3 linked regions of the Homo sapiens genome follow. The protein of the gene in region 1 interacts with the protein of each later gene in a pairwise test. Each region holds a gene or a part of one and is shown in the gene's direction. Other genes may lie near its edges.

Region 1 (9,460 bases):
CTGATGGATTGAGTCTCCTGCCTACAGTTCCCAGGCTGGAGTTGCATACTGGTAGGACTACAGTTTTGTGGTCTTGGAGATGGCTCCATTCCCGCTGCTTCACTAGGCACTGCCCTACTGCAGACTATGTGGTGGCTCCAATCCCACATTTCCGCTTGGCGTTGCCCTAGTGGGGACTCTCTGCAGTACCAGCTTTAAATAAATAGCATTAGGAACTGGAGGGGCAAAGAAAGCTACATAGGCCAATACAAACAGGTTCTGAAGAGTCATGGTATTTGAATAACAATGTTGTTCCCCTTTTCTCATGTAGCCAGAAACTAGTGAGAAATAGCACATTTGACAATAACATAAAGAGATAGTTCCTGGACCCAGACAGAAAGCGATGGTGCCTGAACACTGTAAAGAATATTCACATGCACTTATTAGACAATAAACAAATATCTAAGTACTTTTCTCTACTAATTATTCTAAATCTTTGTTGTTAAATCACTATTCTTCACGAGTCCATGAATTTTATAACACAGTTTTGTTTGTTTGTTTGTTTTTTGATACGGAATCTCGCTCTGTCGCCCAGGCTAGAGTGCAGCGGCGCGATCTCAGCTCACCGCAACCTCCGCCTCCCGGGTTCAAGCAATTCTCCTGCCTCAGCCTCCCGAGTAGCTGGGACTACAGGCACGTGCCACCATGCCCAGCTAGTTTTTGTATTTTTAGTAGAGAAGAGGTTTCACCATGTTGGCCAGGAAGGTCTTGATCTCTTGACCTCGTGATCCGCCCACCTTGGCCTCACTAAGTGCTGGGATTACAGGCGTGAACCGCCGCCCCCGGCCTATAACACAGTTTTTAATCAAATTGCATATACAGACTGGGCCCACAAAAACATTTGCTTGGGGCTCCACAAAACCTAGATACAGTCCTGTCAACGTGATAGATAAATAGGTAGGTATGTAGGTATTAGGTTGGTGCAAAAGTAATTATGGTTTGCCATTAAAAGTAATTGCAAAACCACAATTATTTTTGCACCAACCTGATAGAGATATAGCAGGCAGACACACACACACACACACACACACACACACACACACACACACATACAATTTCCCAGAGCACTACTCACCAATGAAGTACTAATGAAATAGCTCCCCCTGAACCACAAGGGTCATTGGACTGCAGCTCCCTCCCTCCTACAGAATGAAGTCCAAGCTCCTTAGACTGACTTGGCCACAAGCTACCTTTCTGGCCTTGTCCTTTGTCTTTTTGTGCATTATGTTCTAGTAACTTCAAACTGCTTGTAGTTTCCCCTGCACATCATATATCTTTGCTTTTGTGTACGCTGTTTCCTCTTCCTGGGATGTTTTCCCCACTGGCCTTATCTTCCAAGATTCAGTTTAGGTATCATCTCCTCTTTGAATCTCTCTTGAGTCACCAAACTGGGCTAAGTGTTCCCTCCTTGTCATCCCACAGTTCCCAATTACTGTACCCCACACTCACCACATAGGATTCTAATTATCTGTATAGATGTTTACCTCCCAGTATATTAAAGAGCTTCTATGGTAAGGTGGTGTCTTACTCATCTTTGTATATCAGCCCTTGCATTGTGCTTGACACACAGTTATCAGCTCAATGAATCTATAATGTAGGATGATTTATGGAAGGAGACCAATGGACTAAGTCAAGTGGACTCTGGTGAGCCTAGAAAACGTTCTAGTAAAATGAAGGAGAGGCTGGAGGGTAAGTCATGCCAAGAGAATATCAGCAGTATATATCAATTATCCAAGTGGTTTAGCCATACAAGAAAAAGAAAAAATGGGATATAAGTTAAAAATGCAGTAAGCTGGAGAGTGGCATTTTCTTCTATTTAGAGGAAGGCCTAAATACGTATAAAGACTTAAGAGACTGAGAGGCAGAAGGGAGATCTTCTGGACTTCAATTTCCTTATCTGCCTTATCCACCTCCCAGGGATGCCATGAGACCCAAAGGAAAACAAGACATAGGCATGAAAATTATTTGAGAAATTTTTTACATTACTATCCTCTGATAGATTTTTCTGATAGCTTCCAACTACCCGCAGAATAAAAATCTATAAAGAAAAACCCAATCTGACATTTAAGATTTCCTGGCCAGGCGCAGTGGCTCACGCCTGTAACCCCAGCACTTTGGAGGCCAAAGCGGGTGGATCATCTGAGGTCGGGAGTTCGAGACCAGCCTGACCAACATGGTGAAACCCTGTCTCTACTAAAAATACAAAAATTAGCTGGGCGTGGTGGTGGGTGCCTGTAATCCTAGCTACTCGGGAGGCTGAGGCAGGAGAATTGCTTGAACCCAGGAGGCGGAGGTTGCAGTGAACCAAGATTGCACCATTGCATTCCAGCCTGAGCAACAGAGCGAGACTCCATCTCAAAAAAAAGAAAGAAAGAAAGAAAAAAAAATTCCTATGATCTCGTTCTAACCTTTCTTCGACTACTATTATTGCCCCAAACACCCTGAATCCAGCCAGAGGAGATTCATGTTCTTTCCTTCTGTTTGCCTTTGCTCAAGCTATTCCCTCAGCCTCAAATGCCCTCCTCTTCATCTCTACCAGGCAGACACAATAAACATTTTCAGAGTGGTTAGTATATACAAGACACTGTTAAAATTCTATTGATTCTTGAAGGTCTTATTCATATGCTATTTTGTCCATGAACCGTTCTTGCCCTTCCCACGGAAATGGTACTTTGTATCAATTGTAGCATGTATTCTACTTAATAATGTAGCTTGAGGGTATGATTAGTTCTCCCAACAGACCATGAGAGATATGGGAGGTTTTAGGGCTGTGTCTTGCTTGTGTTCCTATCTCCAGTATCTGTGCATGGTACATTGTAGATGCTCAATTATAGAAAAAGTGAAAAAAATAATTTTAGGAAAAGAATGTACATGGGTGGACAGTCTCTTGGGACACAAAACTGGGTGGGATCCAGGATCCAGGAAAAGAGAAGTATCAACTTGTCCAAGAAAAGAATGTCTCCTGCCTTGGGAGGAATAGTAGATAAGCTTGGAGGATGGAAACGGGATAGCCTATGTGGAGACAGAGAAGTGTCCAAACCCAGTCCCAGCTCAAATGCCACCCCTTCATTAAGTCTCTCCTAAATCTCCTCCTAGAGACGACCCCCAGCTCAGCTCAATCTCTTTGGATTTTCTACCTTCTAGAATGTTTGTCTTGATAAATAAAATTCATAGAAAGCCATTGGTTTGGACTGAGCTCCTGCACTAGGCGCAACAGGCCAAACCAAAATAGAGTCACTCATGCTAAAGTTCCAAGCCACAAAGCCAAAATTAAGCTGCTCATCTGACCTTAGGAGAAATCAGAAGAGAGGGAAAATAGCCATATCCCCATGATAAAGGAAGTCCCTTCTGCCTTAACCAATACAAGTAAAATAACTTTGAAACTTGTTCTTTGTTTCTGCTTTTTTTTTTCAGCCCTTTTCTGTCTATAAAGATAATCTCCTCTGCTCAGCTCATCAGAATACTCATTCTATTTTATAGAATAAGGTGTTGCCTGGTGCTAGAATCGCAAATAGCCAGTTAAGATCTGTAACTGTGTTGTATTAAAGGAGAGAAGGTTAGCACTCCCTTTGACAAGGATGGAAGAGGCCCTTGGGCCTGACAACACGCATACGGTTAAGGCATTACCACCTACTTCGTGGGATCTAACCATCGTTTTTGAAATGGTGCTGGGAAAACTAGCTAGCCATATGTAGAAAGCTGAAACTGGATCCCTTCCTTACACCTTATACAAAAATCAATTCAAGATGGATTAAAGACTTACATGTTAGACCTAAAACCATAAAAACCCTAGAAGAAAACCTAGGCAATACCATTCAGGACATAGGCATGGGCAAGGACTTCATGTCTAAAACACCAAAAGCAATGACAACGAAAGCCAAAATTGACAAATGGGATCTAATTAAACTAAAGAGCTTCTGCACAGCAAAAGAAACTACCATCAGAGTGAACAGGCAACCTACAGAATGGGAGAAAATTTTTGCAATCTACTCATCTGACAAAGAGCTAATATCCAGAATCTACAATGAACTCAAACAAATTTACAAGAAAAAAACAAACAACCCCATCAACAAGTGGGCGAAGGATATGAACAGACACTTCTCAAAAGAAGACATTTATGCAGCCAACAGACACATGAAAAAATGCTCATCATCACTGGCCATCAGAGAAATGCAAATCAAAACCACAATGAGATACCATCTCACACCAGTTAGAATGGCGACCATTAAAAAGTCAGGAAACAACAGCTGCTGGAGAGGATGTGGAGAAATAAGAACACTTTTACACTGTTGGTGGGACTGTTAACTGGTTCAACCATTGTGGAAGACAGTGTGGAGATTTCTCAGGGATCTAGAACTAGAAATACCATTTGACCCAGCCATCCCATTACTGGGTATATACCCAAAGGATTATAAATCATGCTGCTATAAAGACACATTTACATGTATGTTTATTGCAGCACTATTCACAATAGCAAAGACCTGGAACCAACCCAAATGTCCAACAATGACAGACTGGATTAAGAAAATGTGGCATATATACACCATGGAATACTATGCAGCCATAAAAAATGATGAGTTCATGTCCTTTGTAGGGACACGGATGAAGCTGGAAACCAACATTCTCAGCAAACTATCGCAAGGACAAAAAAACAAACATTACATGTTCTCACTCATAGGTGGGAACTGAACGATGAGAACACTTGGACACAGGAAGGGGGACATCACACTTCGGGGCCTGTTGTGGGGTGGGGAGAGGGGGAAGGGATAGCATTAGGAGATATACCTAATGTAAATGACGAGTTAATGGGTGCAGCACACCAACATGGCACATGTATACATATGTAACAACCCTGCACGTTGTGCACATGTACCCTAGAACTTAAAGTATAATAATAAAAAATAATAAAATAAAGAAAAAAAATCTATAACTACATTTCTTGTAATTTTGTCTTTTGAGAGTATACATATCTTATTTCCTTTCCCAGACCAGAACCTCTTTGAGGGCAGGAGGAACCCGGTTTTCCCTACTTTACACATGACACATAATAACCACTCATTCAATGTAGGTTTACTGGATGGATAAATAGGAATGGGGGGTAGATAGGCGGGAGAGTGAGTAGACAAATGCGAAACAGGAAAAGCTTGCGCCAGGAAAAACAGTGAAGAGCGAAATCTCCAGACCCCCGATTAAATGGTTTAAAGTGAAGCCAAGCAAGAACCTCCAGTCCTCTCTGCGGCAGAGAACAGCAGATGATAGCGGCTCGCCTTCAACTTTGCTCTGAGGACCTCTCGTTAGTATCCCGCGATTGTCCTTCCTAACGCCTGACTGAATCCTGAGGCTAGCCTTCAGCGAACATGTACACCGCCTTGCCCTTCACGTGAAGCCGAGCCTGTGACTACACTTATCCTTCCGTCGCCGGCCTCATTTCTCCTTCCCCTTCTCCGATCTCGCAACCACTGCTAGTAAGGCGCGCGTGCGGGCAGCCCTGGCCGGCAGGGGAGGGAGGGTCCTGCGACCGGAAGCCGGAAACCGGAAGGGGGGCTGTGAGGACGTGTTCCGAGGAAGCCAGAGCCGGAGCCGTGGCCTGCGGGGCCGGCGACATGGATCCCCTGTTCCAGCAAACGCACAAGTGAGGGCCGGTCGGGGAGCGGGCAGGGGCTAGACGAGGCGAGGCCAGGTGAGCCTGGCTTCTGGGGCTGAGGCCTCGGACGTCAGCCAGGGTAGAGGCCGAGTTTTTCCGCCAGGGCACTGCTGGGGATGCCTCCGAAGTGCTTAATCCTTGGCGGGACTCCCAGGTCAGCCACAGACAGTGGGTTCAGGCTGGGGCCTGGAGACGTGGGGCAGATGACTCCTGGGGTCTGCAAGTTCGTGACTACCTGCTGGGTAGACTGGGTGACGGGAAACTGGCACCTGCAGGTTATAAAACTTTGTCCAGCACTTGTCAACTCGGTGCTCCTGGTTGGTAGACCTCGAGAGGAGACACGGAGTAGGAGACACGGCCCCTGGCCGTAGGAGTGTACTGTTTAATTGGAGAGTCAGGGCACGTACGGGAAAGTATTTGTATTCTTATTCGATTTATACTAAAGACCACATTTTTATGGTACAAAGAAATTGCTGTCCACGTAGCATTCACTATTATTACTTGTTAATCGTATCTGGTTACAGGTTATCGCTAAGAAAATCAAATTGTAATTTAGTTTCTCATAACTTAAATTCCTTGGTAGTGTCCTTTATTCGCATCGTCCTGCACTTTCGGAATTGCTGAGATACGTAGTTGAGTATTAATGGGGCCATACTTACCCTATTTTTGGGGGCGGGGGGCAGAATTATGATTTTTACCCTGTTTTGGAGGGACGGAATTTTATGATTTTTATTTTTTATTGTAAAATATACACAACATAAGATTTACTGTTTTAACAATTTTTAAGTGTACAATTCAGTGACATTGAGTACATTCACAACTTACATCACTACGATCCATTTCCAGAACTTTTTCATCATCCCAGTGTGCCTGTTAATCAGTAGCACTTCATTTCTTCCTTCCAGAACACCTAGTAACCTCTGTTTTACTTCTCTCTATGAGTTTACCTATTCTAGATACTTAATATAAGTGGAGTCATACAGAATTTGTCCTTTTGTATCTGGCTTATTTCACTTAATGTTTTCAGGGTTCATCTATATTGTAGCCTGTTACCAGAATTTCATTCTGTTTTATGACGGAATAATATTCCGTTTTATGTGTCTACCACATTTTGTTATCCATTCATCTGTTGATGGACACTTGAGTTGTTTCCACCATTGGGCTGTTGAGAATAATACTGCTATGAACTCTGGTGTAGAAGTATCTGTTTTAGTTTCTCTTCTCAATTTTTTGAGGTATATACCTATCCTATTGAGAACTTTCAAACTTATGCTGTAGTTTTGTTGATTAAAACACTTAAAATCACACTCCCAAGGCCTGGAAATGAAATGCCCTGAAGCATGAGGAATAAGAGGGTGATGATCCTCTTTCTCTTTCATTTTCTAAGTTTATGGGTTTCTTTTATTTTGGCGATGAGGTGTTTCATTTGGACAGGCGAAAATACAGAACCTACTTTGTAATGACAGAATTTTCTTTTACACTGGGGAGCCCTATTCTCACATAAACGTTATAGGAAGGGACTTAAAACTAGTCTGTGAGTAATTTAGAGAAAGAATGAAACGAAATTATGTTCATGTTACTAAGAAAGGGCCTATCTTTCACAATAGCAGGGCACAATGGGCATAGTAGTGCCTTGAAGTTAATCTGTTATGTATGGTCTTATCTAGTTAATTTAGTTAAAGGATGTTGCCAAGAAGGCCATGACCCATTTTATATTCAAGAATAACTTTATTTAGAGAGTCTTAGACTACCTGTTTTCAGTGCAGCTAATCACAGAGAAAACTGCATGGCTCAGAAGAGGAATTCTAAATGGTACCCCAAACAAGGTGTGTGGAGTGTAGATGCTCTGTAGGCCTCCAACAATGCACCCTTGGACTCTAGCAGCTTGCCAGTTTTTTCTATTAAGGGCCAGATAGTAAATATTTTAGGCTCTGTGGGCTATACGGTCTCTGTAGTTACTACTCTGCTGTTATATTGGGAAAACAGCCATAGACAATATGTAAACTAATTGATGTACCTGTGTTCCAGTACAATTTTATTTATCAAAACAAGCAGTGGGCCAGCTTTGCCCCACAACTATTAGGCCCTCTGCTACCCCGACACTCATTAATTCATTGAATATTTATTGAGCACCTACTATGTGCTGTGCACCATTCTCAGTGCTGGCAGCACAGCCCTGCCCTCGAGGAGTTTACCTTCTTTTATGCTGCAGTATCTTGTCTATCTTTCCTCTCCAGTGCTGAACCAGGAGTGGGAGTTCTGGTTCTAGACCTCCTTACTTTATTTTTCCTCATCTGTAGAATGATATTATAATTTGGGCTGGTTAAACTGTAAGGCTCCTTTCAGTTCCATGATAACAGAACTGATGACTGAATGACTTTCACAAGAAACACGTGGAGTCCAGTGAGCACCAGCAATGAACTTTCGCAACTGCAGAAATTAGTGATTGTAGCTGAGTTGACACAACAGTAGCTGAACTTATTAATTTTACTGGAACTTTGAACCCAGTTTGTGATTATCTCTTGCCGTGTCACTGAATACATTGAGTACATTGGAATTAGATTGACATATTAAAGTTACTTGAAAACTCCTGAACCTACCTGAACAATGAATGAATGAAAATAATGAATGAATGAAAACAATAAACATTTTACACTTAAATGTTTAATTTAGATGAACTTTATAGAGGAGCTAATAGCCAGGCTTCTATTTTTGAGATCCCAATGGTTGTAAAGGTGACCACATTTGTCCCCTATGTAGTCCAAGATCAGTCTCCTGTCCTGGACCTTATCGTATGTCCAGGACACAAGAAGCACTACATTTAACAAGCTCCCTAGGTGGTTTTGATGAGCAGGTAGGCTTAAGAACTGTTACCTTATCTCAAGACCATTTTTTTTCCTGAACAGCGGAGCTTAAGAACTATTACCTTATCTCAAGACCATGTTTTTCCTTTATAGATTTTGCCCTTTAATGAGCGAAATGTAAAGGCAAAGTGAGTGAAATGAAAATGACCAGATTGTTGCCACTACTTTTAAGTAAAGTTAACAACAAACTTACATGATGCTGTGTAGGTTACACAGCGTTTTCATGTTCATCATGGTCAGAGGCAGCCTGGATGCAAAGTGGATGTTATGGGGTGGTGGGGGGCGGTGAGTAGTTTCATGAACTTTTAAAAAGCACTTCCATTAAAAAATTCTTCCTAGATCTTCTGTAAACCTTTTTTAAAGACGGCTACAATGACCCTGGCTTATTTGCTACTATTTCTCTGCTTTGTTATATTATCACCCAAGCCCACCATGGACCCCATGCTAGAGAGGGCTAAGACTTCTTTTTCCTCATGTCCACGCTCCCAAGTCATGCTTGTGTATCACCTGTTTCTTATGGACTTCCAGTGTGTTATGTTGTGTTAGAATTCCCAGTTCAGTTTGAGACAGATTTTGCACTTGGCATATTAGTAGTTCCCACCTTGCCATTCATACTTGCTTTGTTGTTTCATATTTATGTTTTCTTAGCATGAAATGTAGCCGCTGGAATTGTATTATTGGCCACATTGTCTCTGATTGGTTCAAAGCAAATAGAGATTTGATGGGAAAAGTCAGTGGATTATGGGCCTGTACAAAAGTGCTTTGATGAACGTCCTGCCATGTACATCTCCTCAGGGTATGCCAGAACCTCTCTAGGACACATTCCTCAAACTGCTGGGTCATAGCATGGACACATGCTTTATTCTACTAGTTATTGTCAGAAAGCATTTAAAGTGTTTTACCAATTTATAAT
Region 2 (8,125 bases), on another chromosome or scaffold:
TTTCAGCTCCATTATAATCTTATGAGACCACCATTGTATATGTGGTCTGTCATTGACTGAAACATCGTTATGCAGTGCATGACTGTACTTCAGACCTTTTCATGTTTTTCCCTACTAAGAAATCAGTGTCAATTAAAGTTTATGTAAACCATCTTTAATGAAAAGTATAAACATTATTTCATTCAACAGGTCTCTGGAAAAGTTTCTTTGATGTCCACAATTCCTGTGAATCAAGATGGACTAATTATAATGTAGAGTTCATGTCTAGACGCTCTTGTAAATTGCTACAGAAGTATTTCCCTTATCTGTTTCAGCTGCTCTTCGCTAGGCCAAATAGTATCCCAGCTTTCTGCCAGCTACTAGCTACCTGTAGAGGTATATGAAGTAGGTGTGCTTTTCCAGTTTTACTGTATATTCCTATACTTAATAATCACCAAACTCTTGCAGGCCCTTAACATATGTTAGTAATGAGCATCCTTTGGTTTTATCACTTTTTACCATTTTTCTTGCCTGATTCATGCATTAAAGTGAATGAACAGGGGTAGCTGCTTCCTACCAGAAGCCTTGGTTTTCTGGGGAAATTTGTAAAGATCTCTAGATTAGTTCTTGATTTGGCATGACTGATTAAGCAAGCAGCTGTTCACTAAGAGGCAAAGCTGAGAGTAGAACAATTTAATTGGCTTCTATCTGTTGAGCTTTTAATGGAAGTCACAGCTTGAATATATGGAGCTCTTTATTTAGTTTTAAATGAAACATTTTTCCAAAGGGAGACTCTAAACATATATCCCAAAGTCTTACCTGATAATAATTCTGTTCAAAATATAATATTCATCCATTAGAACAAAGACTTAAAAACTCGATTTTTGGGCGAGGGTGGGATGATACATTTTTTAATGGTGAATTGTTTGAGTGCTTTTAAATACAGTAGTTAAATGAACAATTCATAAAATGGATAAGGTATGATATGTTTTATGACACCTTTTAACATTCATGAAATAAATGCTTTGTATACATTGAATTTTAACAAACTAAATGAGCAGCCCGTGCCCACCTTCTGCTCTAGGATCAGCAGAGAGCATACGAAAGTCTTCAGGGGAAACCTCCTCACATTTAAGATTAGATTCTCCATTCTCTTCTGATTACTGATTATATTTTTTTTCCAATTTTGTGTCCATCTGGCCTCCAGATACCTATTTGCTTTAATCTTAGAAAAGCATTATTCTCCTTACATCCCACTTAGCAAATTATGGTAATGCTTAATTTATGTACAAAACTTTTATGTATTGTTTGGTTAATATTAAACCTAGGCTAAAAGACCACAAATTAAAATTTTAATACCCAATAAACATATGTTGAATTAAAAAGAAGTAAAAGAGCAGTAAAGTTAATGGAGTCTCATAGAGAAGAATTGTAATATCAATATTTTTACCAAGTACACACACACACACACACACACACACACACACACACACACAAAGAATGAGGAAAGAATTCATTATAGACATATGAATTCTGATGGAAGGGGCCCTGTGGGAGATTGATTCTTATTACGATATCCTGGTTGGAAGGGAATGAAGTGGGGTTATTGCTAGTGCAGTCAATGACTTGGCTTTTCTCTGGTGAATTGATTTCAGTAGGTGACTTTATTTCTTTGCATTAGGCAGCTGGAAATGTGTATTGATTTATTTCTTTTTCATTTGAGAATCAGCTTTATCAAAGATGGAGCCATAGAAATGCTGTATTTGCTGGATATGAGCAAATGCCTTAGTGCCTTTTTTTTTTTTTTTTTGCTCTGAATGTTCCTAAGATTTTTAGGAGCCAAATAAAGTTCAGCTCAATGAAATAGAAAACACACTTTGAGTGTGCATATATGCATAGTACTATTCTTTCTGCTAACTCGATTGTTAAGACCTGAAGCTCTTTTATAAAAATCTTTTTTTTTTTTTTTTTTTTTAATAAGGGATACAAAGCCCTGCAGGCCTTTTGCTCCAAGAATGTGTGTGATTGAAGAGCATGTTTTAAAAGTTAAATTCTCATTTGTGCAGTGACGGTGTTAGCGGTGGAGGGTGTTCAGGTTCTTGGCATTTTGAACAAAGAATTAGACAAAATGCACAAAGCAAGGAAGGAATGAAGCAATGAAAGTAGCGATTTATTAAAAATGAAAGTACACTCCACAGGGTGGGAGTTGGTCCTACCATAGGGGCTCAAGAGCCCGGTTACAGAATTTTCTAGGGCTTAAATACCTGCTACAGGTTTCCCATTGGCCACTTGTTGTACACCCCATGCAAATGAAGTAGTGGCCCACAATCTAGGCCGGTTGTGGTGCCTCACGCCTGTAATCCCAGCACTTTAGGAGGCTGAGGTGGGCAGATCACGAGGTCAGGAGTTCAAGACCAGTCTGGCCAACATGGTGAAACCCCGTCTCTACTAAAAATACAAAAATTAACCGAGTGTGGTGGTGCGTGCCTGTAATCCCAGCCGCTCGCGATGATGAGGCAGCAGAATTGCTTGAATCCGGGAGGCGGAGGTTGCAGTGAGCTGAGATCTATCGCACCACTGCACTCTAGCCTGGGGGACACAGCAAGACTCCATCTGGAGGCGGGGTTGGGGGCGTGGCGGAGGGGAGGGGAAGTTACACTTCTGTGCAAAGGAAGACTTGGCTGGCAGTCAGTCAGATTGGTTGGGGAAAGCAACCAATCAGAGGCTGAAATGAAGTTATAAAGTTATACTCCTATGTAAACGTCTGATTGGTTGCGGAAAGCAACCAATCAGAGGTACTTTCAGTTTTCCATTTGCCACTCAGAAAAGTGAGGGAGGGGTTTTCAAAGCGAGTAACCTCCAGTTATTTTGTTAGTTAGGTGTGTAAAGTTGGGCTTTTCTGTTTGATTTAGTTCTAGGAAGTCAGTATGAATCGGCCTTAGGTTCCCTGCCTCCAGACCCTATTGTCTTGCCTCAACAGTGCAATGGCTCTTTGCTAAGACTGTGTTCTTCTTAAGATTTTAATTTTGTTTTAAATGTTGTTTGTCCTGCTCCAAAATTAGTTTTTTAATTATGGAATTATTTTTTGTTTTGTTATTACAGGCAGTGTTAGTTCTATGGTTTTTGGCTTGATTGTTTCTTAGAAATTATGTAACCAACTCTTTCATATCATAGATGAGAAATTGAGGGATAAAGAAATCGATTTGTCATAAATTTAATTGAAATATTATTAGAAGAATAGTTTTTACTTATAGTACTTGAAATTCTCTGTTAATATTAAGACTTAGATAATTTTGAATATCATGATGTTAAAATTATAAATGACACCTCTAATATTGAGATCTTTAAGATAAAACAGACATAAGATACATGACAAATAGATGGTAAAGGTGAAGAAATATACAAAAGGTCAAAAATTCTTATAGTTTATATTCTTAACATTTGTTCTAAATTTTAAAAATTACTAAAATTACAAGACATATTTCTTAAAATAAAAAAATTACTCTAGGTTTATTATGAGACAACAATTTATAGCTGTCATTTATCTTAACAGGTTGAAGAAATATGGAGATCAACACAAAACTGCTCATCAGTGTTACCTGTATCAGCTTTTTCACCTTTCAGCTTCTTTTCTACTTTGTAAGTTACTGGTTTTCAGCAAAAGTTTCTCCAGGTTTCAATAGTCTCAGCTTCAAAAAGAAGATTGAATGGAACTCAAGGTAAAGCATATGAAAATGTAATTGATGACAAGAAACTAGTTTATGAGATAAAATTATTTAAAATATTTCAAAAAAGTATTTCATTTAGGATCTAATGTAAGGCCAAATTTTTATTTGATCTTAGAAATAAAAGGAAAAACAAGTAGATGATCTCATGCAAAAAAAAGTTTAAGAATTCATATATTGAAAGATGTTAGGAGAAATTTACTTAAGTTTCTGAGGAAGTGTGTGAAGATGAAGTAGACTCCAGCTGACTGTGGATGAATACTAGTACTTTCGTGTTCTTCTTTGAAATATTTATAACAAACATATTCTTTGGAAACAAAGATGGAAGAAAAAATTAGTTGTACTTTTGAGTAGCTTATACCATACAGCATTGGCCAACTTAGCCAGACCTGGGGCAGTTAGACTCTACACATCAGGGAACAAAGTGTACAGTCAGTGCATATGAATCTTTTAATGAACTTTGCATTATAATTTAGAGCCCTCCAGCATTTATTATTTTGTTATATAATTTTAAAGTAAAAATTTCTTTTTAGTTTTTTTTTTTTAAACAGAAAAGTAAATGGAGAAAGAATTAGACATCTATTGATATAGAAATCTGCTGGAGTTTTATTTTTTATTTTTATTTTATTTGTTTATTTATTTTTTTGAGACAGAGTCCCGTTCTGTCGCCCAGGCTGGAGTGCAGTGGTGAAATCTTGGCTCGCTGCAACCTCTGCCTCCCAGGTTCCAGTGATTCTCCTGCCTCAGCTTCCTGAGTAGCTGGGATTACAGGCATGCGCCACCATGCCAAGCTAATTTTTGTGTTTTTAGTAGAGACAGGGTTTCACTAGGTTGGCCAGGCTGGTCTTGAACTCCTGACCTCAGGTGATCCACCCACCTTGCCCTCCCAAAGTGCTGGGATTACAGGCATGAGCCACTGCACCCTGCCAGAGTTTTAAAAAGTTGGTTGCAATTTTTTTGTGTGTGTACAACTTATTAATCTCACAAGATTTCAAACACAAAATGGCTCTGATGACTTCTTCACGTGCTTTAGAGCATTTTATGTCCCCAAACATCACTGTGCATTTGTAAACCTCAGTGAGTCAGAGCAGCCGTGGCCTTATTTTTTGTTGTTGCTATTTAGTTGAAGTTAATACTAACCATAAAATGGATTCAGCAAGTCTCTAAAGTTTGCTATAATTATCTTTCATTGAAATTTCCTTTTAAAATTCAAGAAATTCTGTCAGTGTCTGAGTATTTATTTGAGAATGGTCATATTTGATTTGAAATTCCCTTTGAACCAAATTGTTTTGCAGGCATCTACTTTTATGATTCAGACTGTGAATTTAATAAGACTCTAGTTGTTTTTTTTTGTACTTTACAGTGATGTATCGGGTTCATACATGTCAAAGTTCTTTTCACCCAAAAAGCAAGAATTATTTCTCCACATATTTTCAAAAAATAAGCAGTATGATTATTTTGTCTTAAGACTAGCACAAAAATATTGTTCAAATGCATTATACTAGAGATACCATTACTTTAAAAAATCTTTTCTAACATATGAAGATAGATGGAATGGTAGGAAAGAGAAGGGGGTACATACGTTCTCTGATTAAATGTTGAACTATTTTCATTTCCTCTTTCCTGTGGTTAGGATAGGTAAAGGCATTTGAATGTTAGGTAGCTGCAAGTCAGAGAAATAGGAAAGGGTACAGAGAGATGGAAGCCAAGATGAAAATGAAATGAAATTGAAGAATATTTTGCATTATCTAGTCTTATCACTGCCATTCTATGACACAGGAAATACCATTTGGGAAACTGAATTTCTATTTGAAAAAGGAGTCTGGGATTATATAAAATTCATTTAGGTATTCAGTGGTGTTTTCTCTTTTTCTCAAGTTTGCTCCTGCTTCTCACTCCAGCTTTTTTTACAAAGGACTTAAGCTGTAAGGTGGAGAGTGCAAAGTAGGACAAGGAGGCTGTATTTTGAGTAAAATATGTATAAATGTCTTAAAATTCAGCTTCCAGTTTGAAACATACAGGTAAACACACATAATTCTTTCTAGTGATCAGGAAAGAGTCTCTAAACATGAGTTGAGAGTGGTCTGAGCCATCTAGTATAAAAAGAAATGGAGGAGAAAAAATCACTGGAAATGCCCATTTGAGAGACAACAGTTTAGTTAAAAGTGAGAAATTGTTGTACTGAATTGTTACTTTTTCTGAAAACGTGTATACTTACAGGTGCTACATCTTATAATGTAAAAAAATTTTCTTAATTACTTATATTCACTTTCTTACCTATCACATTGAAAGTCTTATTGTGTTGAAATACTACTAATTTTTAAATGTTTCTCTAAAATTTAGCTGAGTTATATAATTTCTGTTGGCAATATTTACACTACTTGTGATTAGTAACTTAAAATTGCTATTCTAAAATAGTCATTAATCATTTCCTTAGAGTGCTATCCCTTTATATGCACAAACATTTCTTTTCCACCCTCTTTGAAAAAAAATTGAAATATTTTATCTTGGGTAATATCTTGGAATTTCTTTTTAGATACTAAGGAATCTAAATTTTCCTTTGCTAGGAATCTGATTTTAAATAATAAAATATAAAATTTTTATTAACAGAAGTTTCTGAAACTATAGTATAGACTTTTAATACAGAATAGTGTATGAGTGAGGGCAGGGTATTTGTTTTTCCTCCTCATTACAGAGGGAGATATTTGATTGGACCAAGTAATATTTAACTTTTCTGTACTGAATCATACACCATTTCCATCAGCTGAGGGCTTAGAATGCTTTCCATTTACCACATAACATCTCAAAAGAGAAGTGAATCTGAGGCCTGAGTGTCAGAAATAAAAAGTTAGGTTTTTCAAAAGGGAGCTTTCTGACTATGGTTACCAAACAGTAAAACAAGTTTGTAAGAGAGATTATATATTTTTAAATTTTATATAATTTTTGAATAGCAATAGAGAGTGGGCTGTATGACCATTTAAATGGAGTATTTTATTTTATATCAAGGAATTTAATTTTTTTTTTTTTTTGAGACAGAGTGTCGCTCTGTTGCCCAGGCTGGAGTACAGTGGTGCAATCTCCACTCACTGAAACCTTTGCCTCCCAGGTTCAAGTGATTCTTGTGCCTCAGCCTCCCGAGTAGCTGGGATTACAGGTGTGTACCACCATACCCAGCTAATTTTTGTATTTTTGGTAGAGATGGAATTTCACCATGTTGACCAGGCTGGTCTCAAACTCCTGACCTCAGGTGACCCGCCCACCTTGGCCTCCCAAAGTGCTGGGATTACAGGTGTGAGCCACCATGCCCGGCCAAGGAATTTACATTTTTATCCTGTGCTCAAGGTGTGCTTGGCATGAAAATTATAGACTTGTAAACCAGATAAATTGGATTAATTATTCACATTTCAAAATGATTCTTAGGTATTATAAATGATACTTGGTCAATGCCTTTAAATTGGTGAGAATCTTTGCTTATTTAAAATATGGCTTGATTTAGCATGATACATCTATTTTGTAACACACTATTAGGTCAAGTATATTGGTTTCTAAAGTTACAATGAAATTTTCTGATACCAAACCTAATATTAGTTGATATATTTTACTTTTAAAGATTTGGGATCATATTGTAGAGAAAAATTTATTGCACACCAGTAATTTTTAGAGAGAAAACTTTGCTGTACCTCTCATTTTTTATCCTAATGAAGTTTCATTACTTGTGAACTTCTCAATAAAGATGTGAGAAATCTGAAATTGTTGGGTAAAAAAACTTTATTGTATGGATGAATACACAGTATCCTAAGTATAGTTCTCTAAGTAACATAGAGCTTGGGAATTAGTCACATCATTAAATTTATTAACAAGATATATTCATAGAAACTTATGGTTTTTATGTTAAACTTATTCCTTCTATACAAGAAAACTTGACCTGGATCTTGAGAACATTGTGCTTTCACTTGGGTATTTCTTTTAAAAACAAATTTTCCGTATACATTTATGGTCCTCAATTTTTCTATTTAGAAATGTTTTCATAATAATGATAAAGAGGGACTAATAATAGCTACCCTTGTTTTCTTACAAATTTGTTACAAGAATCAAGTGCAATAGTGCATGTCAACGTACTTTAAAAACTGAAGCCTCCCAAGATAATAAATCTTCATATCATGATCCATTCGAATTGTTTTAAGGATATGGAGTTTGTTAAAGCCAGTAGATCTGGAAGTCATTCCCAGCTGATTGGAGCAGGAAACTTATCCTGCATTGATGCTGTTGGGGCTGGAGCTTGGAGCCAAGGGTAGTGGCCTTGCCAGTTGCCATCTGGCTGCACAAAAGTCTGTCAGCTGCATCATCATGTATGCATTTATCTGTCTTAGAACTTTTAACCAATAAGTGATTCACCAGTTCTCTAGCAGGAAATTGTAGGC
Region 3 (4,983 bases), on another chromosome or scaffold:
AGGACCTGGAGAGCAGGGAGGCCATGGTGAGCCTGACTCCACCTGAACCCATTTTGCCTCCTTCCTCTGTGGTCCCTCCAAGACCCCTTTATGCTCTTCGTTTCCCTGCCTTCTGATTTCTCTGGACCCTCACCCCTTCTGGGAGCCAGTGGTCAGACACCATTTCACCTGTGACCAACATGTGCAGTCTCTGGGGCCCCAAGGGAAGGGGCTGCGCTCCACCTCTCTGCCCCATTTGTTCTGTGTATGCCCCTGCAAGAATGCTCACATCTTGCCCTCAGGTGGCATTTTTCAAGTCCGCTGGAGCTAGTGCCCAGGAGAAGCAGGCACAGTTACAAGAGCAGGTGAAAGAGCAGAGGGTGTGCTGCCAGCGCCTGGCTCACCCGGTGGCCTCGGCCCAGAAGGAGCCAGAGGCAGCCAGAGGCCCTGGAGCCCCAGGGCCTGGGGGCGAGTCTGTGAGTGGGGAGACCCACCGGGCCCTGCAGGAAGTCACGGAGAAGCTGGCCCATGCCGGAACTCACCTCCGCCTTCTCCATGACTTGAAAATGCCACCTGAGGGCAGGTCGCTGGCGAGATGTGACCCCATTATTTTGGCTCCAGAGCGGCTTTATGGACCACCTGGAGGAGAAGGCAGACCTGAGTGAGCTGGTGGAGAAAGAAGAACTTGGATTCTTCCAGTACTACAGAGAGAGATGCCATCAGTGAGTGGGAGGCCAGGGCATGGCAGGGGGAGCTGCAGGGCTGTTGGAGGGGCCCCAGCGTCTGAGCCCTGTCCTCCCGCAGGAAAGTTTATCACCCTATAACAAAGCCAGGGGGCAGTGCCAAAGATGCAGCACCGGGAGGAGGACACCATCAGGCTGGCCCTGGACAGGGAGGAGATGAAGGTAGAGTGTGCAACATCTCTGCGGGGGTGGGGGTGGCTGTGACGGTGAGCGCTGGCAGCAGCGTGACAGCTGAGCACCCCTCCCTCCAGGTGAAGCTGCTGGAGCTGCAGGAGATGGTGTTGCAGCTGGTGGCGACTACAAGGGACACAGCAAATTCTTGGTGACTGCCCAGAACCCTGCTCATGAGCCCAGTCCAGGAGCCCCAGCCCCCCAGGAGCTTGGGGCTGCCCACAAGCATGGTGGTGAGTAGAGCCCTCAGGCGGGGTGGGCAGGCAGGAGCAGGGGGGCTCTCACTGAGCTCAGATCCCCGCCTCCCTCTCTCCAAAGATCTTTGTGAGGTGAGCCTCACTGACAGCGTGGAGCCTGTGCAAGGAGAGGCCAGGGAGGGTTCTCCCCACGACAACCCTACTGCACAGCCGATCGTGCAGGACCACCAGGAGCACCCAGGCTTGGGCAGCAACTGCTGTGTGCCATTCTTTTGCTGGGCTTGGCTGCCAAGAAGAAGGAGATAAACATCACCATCGTCAAAGAGCTGCTGAAGAAATTTTTAAAAAAGAAACAAAGTTATGGGGTTAATCTCCTACACAATTCATTTACTTCATTTGAATGTTATAGCCACTTATGATTATTTGTGTTTCTAATTTATAGTTTAAGTTCATTTGTAAATAGTTAAAAGAGAGTGGGTCTCTGTGGCTTTCACTGATGTTCACTCTGGCATACTTTCGCAATTTTCTTTTTCAATTTCATAATTGTAGGTCATTAGCATGCATATTGAGTTTGCCCTTACGTGGTGGGAGTTCAAACACACAAAGACCCACTATTTGCACAAAACTATTCTTGCTGGTTTGGAATAGGCTGCCATGTGTTTTTAATGTTATTGCAGCATGTATATTCATTACAGAATTCAGATAAAATGTGCCTATGTTCTGCTGTTGTTTGATCTAATCTTAATCACAGTGAGCTCTTCATTAGCACAATATGTGGTTTGCCCCAAGTGTGCACTATTTAATACTTTGTAATATGCCACCAAGAGTACTGACATTTAGAGTTGTTTAAAGGCCGAGAACTGGAAACAGCCTTTCCCTCATTTTCTGTGTATTGGTGATGGGAGTAATAACATTTTGGGGGAGCTTTTTAAATTTCACAGAAGAGGAAAGTTGCCTGCTCTGGCAGGTATGTGCAAGATAGAGTGTGTTTCATTTGTTCTGTTGCCAAGAATTAGTGCTGTACTATTGTAGTTCCTTTAGGATTTGTATGTGCTCTGGGCTCATGAAGATATTGCATCATGAGCTTCAGCAGTTGTACTCTTTTTTGATGACCTAAAAAGGGCTTATTTCTGAGGAATGAAAGGTTCCCATCATTGACTACGGATGTGGAAAACCTTTCCTAGCTTAGAGCATTTGTATCTATATTTTAAAGTCAGAGTTCATGTTACCTGTTTTAATCACATGACTGCATGTCCCAGTACACAAAAGGGCACTGGTTGGCATTCTTCTTAATGTATTTAGTAAAGATCATAAGAAATCCTTTAAGAGTTCAAATGTCCCTGGAACAGGCATACAAGCTCTAGTCAAGAATGAATTAGAGTGAAGGAAAGCTGTGTGACACCTGGCATTCCTCTGTTCATGGAGCTTCTTTGAGGCTTGAAGATTGATTTTACCATCTAGACCACTCTGCCTATTCTTCAACCACCTTGGTTACTTTGACATAGGAATTGACTTCTTTTCCTTGAATGGAAAACACTTTGAAATAATAATAAACATTGTTATAAACTAATATATGTGAGAGTGCTTAGTTGAAACAAAAAGGAGTTTTAGTAGACAGTATTATACTATCTTTGAAAATCAAGGAGAAGTTTATGCAACTTAAAATGTGTACAAACTGCAGTGCAATCTACTGTTGGTGAATGTCAGTGTATTATCAGGAAACATGTCTATACAATCACAGAGTTATATTTCCTCACAAACTTCTTTGTGAAGAGTGAAATGTGTTTCTGTACCTCTGGGTTTCACTTACGGGCATATTTTGTGCAGTATTTATGTGATTGTGCCTATGCATGATGAATGAATGAATTTCAGTTGTACATTGCCTAAATCATAACTTGATGATGCTTGGGAAAGACTCAACAGTTAAAACTTCATGAAGTTCTAATGTCTGTGTTCCAAAACACATCACATTATTAGGATGTAGGGAGATATGTATGTGTGCTCCCTGGGGTGGGGATTTCTAGTTACTAGACCATCTCCATTTTTAGCATTTGGCATCCTCATGATACTTTTATAAATACGACATTAACAGGAGAGCAGCAGTACGATTTTGCCGATGGAATAACAGATTTGCCGGCAATCACTGAAAGAGTGCAAACATCGGGTCCTTGTGACTTCAACGGACTCTTCCAAATTGTATGAATGTATCAATGTATTAGATAAACCCAGTTTCAGAATGATAAAGAAAAAATGTTAGACCAAATAATGCGGCTAGTTAACAGTGGTACGATTTCTCGCCCGTGGCTTTAAAATGCACTTAAAGTCCTGTCCTTGCCTTTTATTTTCTGAACTTGATGTTTTTGCATTCTTTGAGTTCAGTTTAAAGACAACTACGAGCATCTGTAACCAATCTGACAATAATGTGTTCATCAGGTGCCTGTGGATTAAATCACATACTGGCATATTTAAGCTGAATGTCAATCTGGAAAATAAATTGACTGTATTAACGGAAATACCACTCTTTGTGTAGATATTTGTCGTATATTTAAGAAAAAGCTAAAAAGAATGGAAATCGCATGACTATAACTTAAGTCTTTCTTCAAAGTGCATGCAGTCTTTTGCGATACCTCATTCAGCCAAGTATTGGTATTCTTCCTCATTCGGTATAAGGCAGCTTTCAATTTGCTTAGAGGGCAACATTGGAAGGTTAGAGTTCATCAGAAACAGAATTCTAAAATGTGAGTTCAATTCAATAAATTTGAATTTCTGTAGGAAGAATCAAATCACCGATTTAAAGATTGCAATATATAATAATCATTTTTAAAGTATTGGATTAAATCTGATAGGTTTTCCAGAAATGAACAAAAATCAGCTCTAAAACCAAAGCTGATTTTTAGAAAATTTGAAAATGTAAATCAGCCCTATCCATACTATAGTTTCTCTAAAACTTTATCTGAAACAGTCATTTTAAAATAACTATTAAACAATGTAACTGCTATCTTAATGTTCTGAAATAAGTTAAAACATTTTAAAATATGAATACTGTAAAGGAAATAAACGGTGGGAAGGAAAAGTAGAGAAAGAAATGCCAATTCCAGTCCAAAGCTTTATTTGCCAAGTTTTCTTAGAATGAATTTTACCAATTTATGAATTCTTGTAAGCGGAATGTAAAACGGAAATACTGAAAGACTTTTGCCTAAAGTGGCATTATTGACTGCTGGTGTGATGCTACTGTAATGTAATAAATTATTAAGTTGTTGCAAAGTGCTGTTTTTGCCTTAAAATTTTATTCTGTGTGTCTTCAAAAATATAGTATTAAAGGTATTGATACTGTGCAAATGCTGAGCATGCTTGGCATGAGATAATGTTTCATTTTTACAAAATTGTAATATAACTATGCAAGGGTTTATTAAAAGAACACAAAATAAAAAAGTTATGGGATTAACAAAAGTTATGGGGTGAAAAAGTTATGGGATAAAAAATGTAAAAAAGTTGTGGCAAAAAAATCTTGTGACCAAAAAGTAGAAGAAAGTTTTATGAAAAGTTACCAAAAAAAGTTATGAAAAAGAAGTTATGGGATTTAAAAAAAAAGGCATGGGATAAAAATAAAAATTAAAATTAAAAGCAGGCCCCTGTCAGCAAAGCCTGGAGAAGTGGGGCTGGGGTCTCCACCACCACACTGTCCCTATCTCCCCTTCCCAGTCACCCCTTTACAATTAGGGTAGCAGGACAAGACCTCTGTCTAACGAGGAAAGACAAACAGACCCTTTGCCACCTTGACCAGAGCTGAGTCCTTAAATTTCTGGAAGATATTGTTATTTAAGAGCCAGAGGCTGGTGGAGTTGGTTTGTTTGGAGGAGGCCTCATGGCCTCCTTACTCTCACCATAGCAAC

Evidence for each region.
Region 2: the proteins of GOSR2 (region 1) and TLCD4 interact in binary tests that used the Homo sapiens proteins (3 or more experiments, as listed by UniProt).
Region 3: the proteins of GOSR2 (region 1) and GOLGA8F interact in binary tests that used the Homo sapiens proteins (3 or more experiments, as listed by UniProt).

The regions. Positions count from the first base shown.
Region 1 is NC_000017.11:46,917,551-46,927,010, forward strand, and holds the start of GOSR2 (Golgi SNAP receptor complex member 2), read left to right. Parts: upstream 1-5,609; 5' UTR 5,610-5,642; coding exon 5,643-5,671; exon of another isoform or gene 5,672-6,082; intron 6,083-9,460. UniProt on the Homo sapiens protein: Involved in transport of proteins from the cis/medial-Golgi to the trans-Golgi network.
Region 2 is NC_000001.11:95,140,359-95,148,483, forward strand, and holds part of TLCD4 (TLC domain-containing protein 4), read left to right. Parts: intron 1-3,532; 5' UTR 3,533-3,543; coding exon 3,544-3,698; intron 3,699-8,125. Other genes in the region: TLCD4-RWDD3 (TMEM56-RWDD3 protein), read left to right, coding at 3,544-3,698.
Region 3 is NC_000015.10:28,387,668-28,392,650, forward strand, and holds the end of GOLGA8F (golgin subfamily A member 8F), read left to right. Parts: coding exon 1-26; intron 27-600; coding exon 601-701; intron 702-783; coding exon 784-884; intron 885-973; coding exon 974-1,126; intron 1,127-1,211; coding exon 1,212-1,396; 3' UTR 1,397-4,354; downstream 4,355-4,983.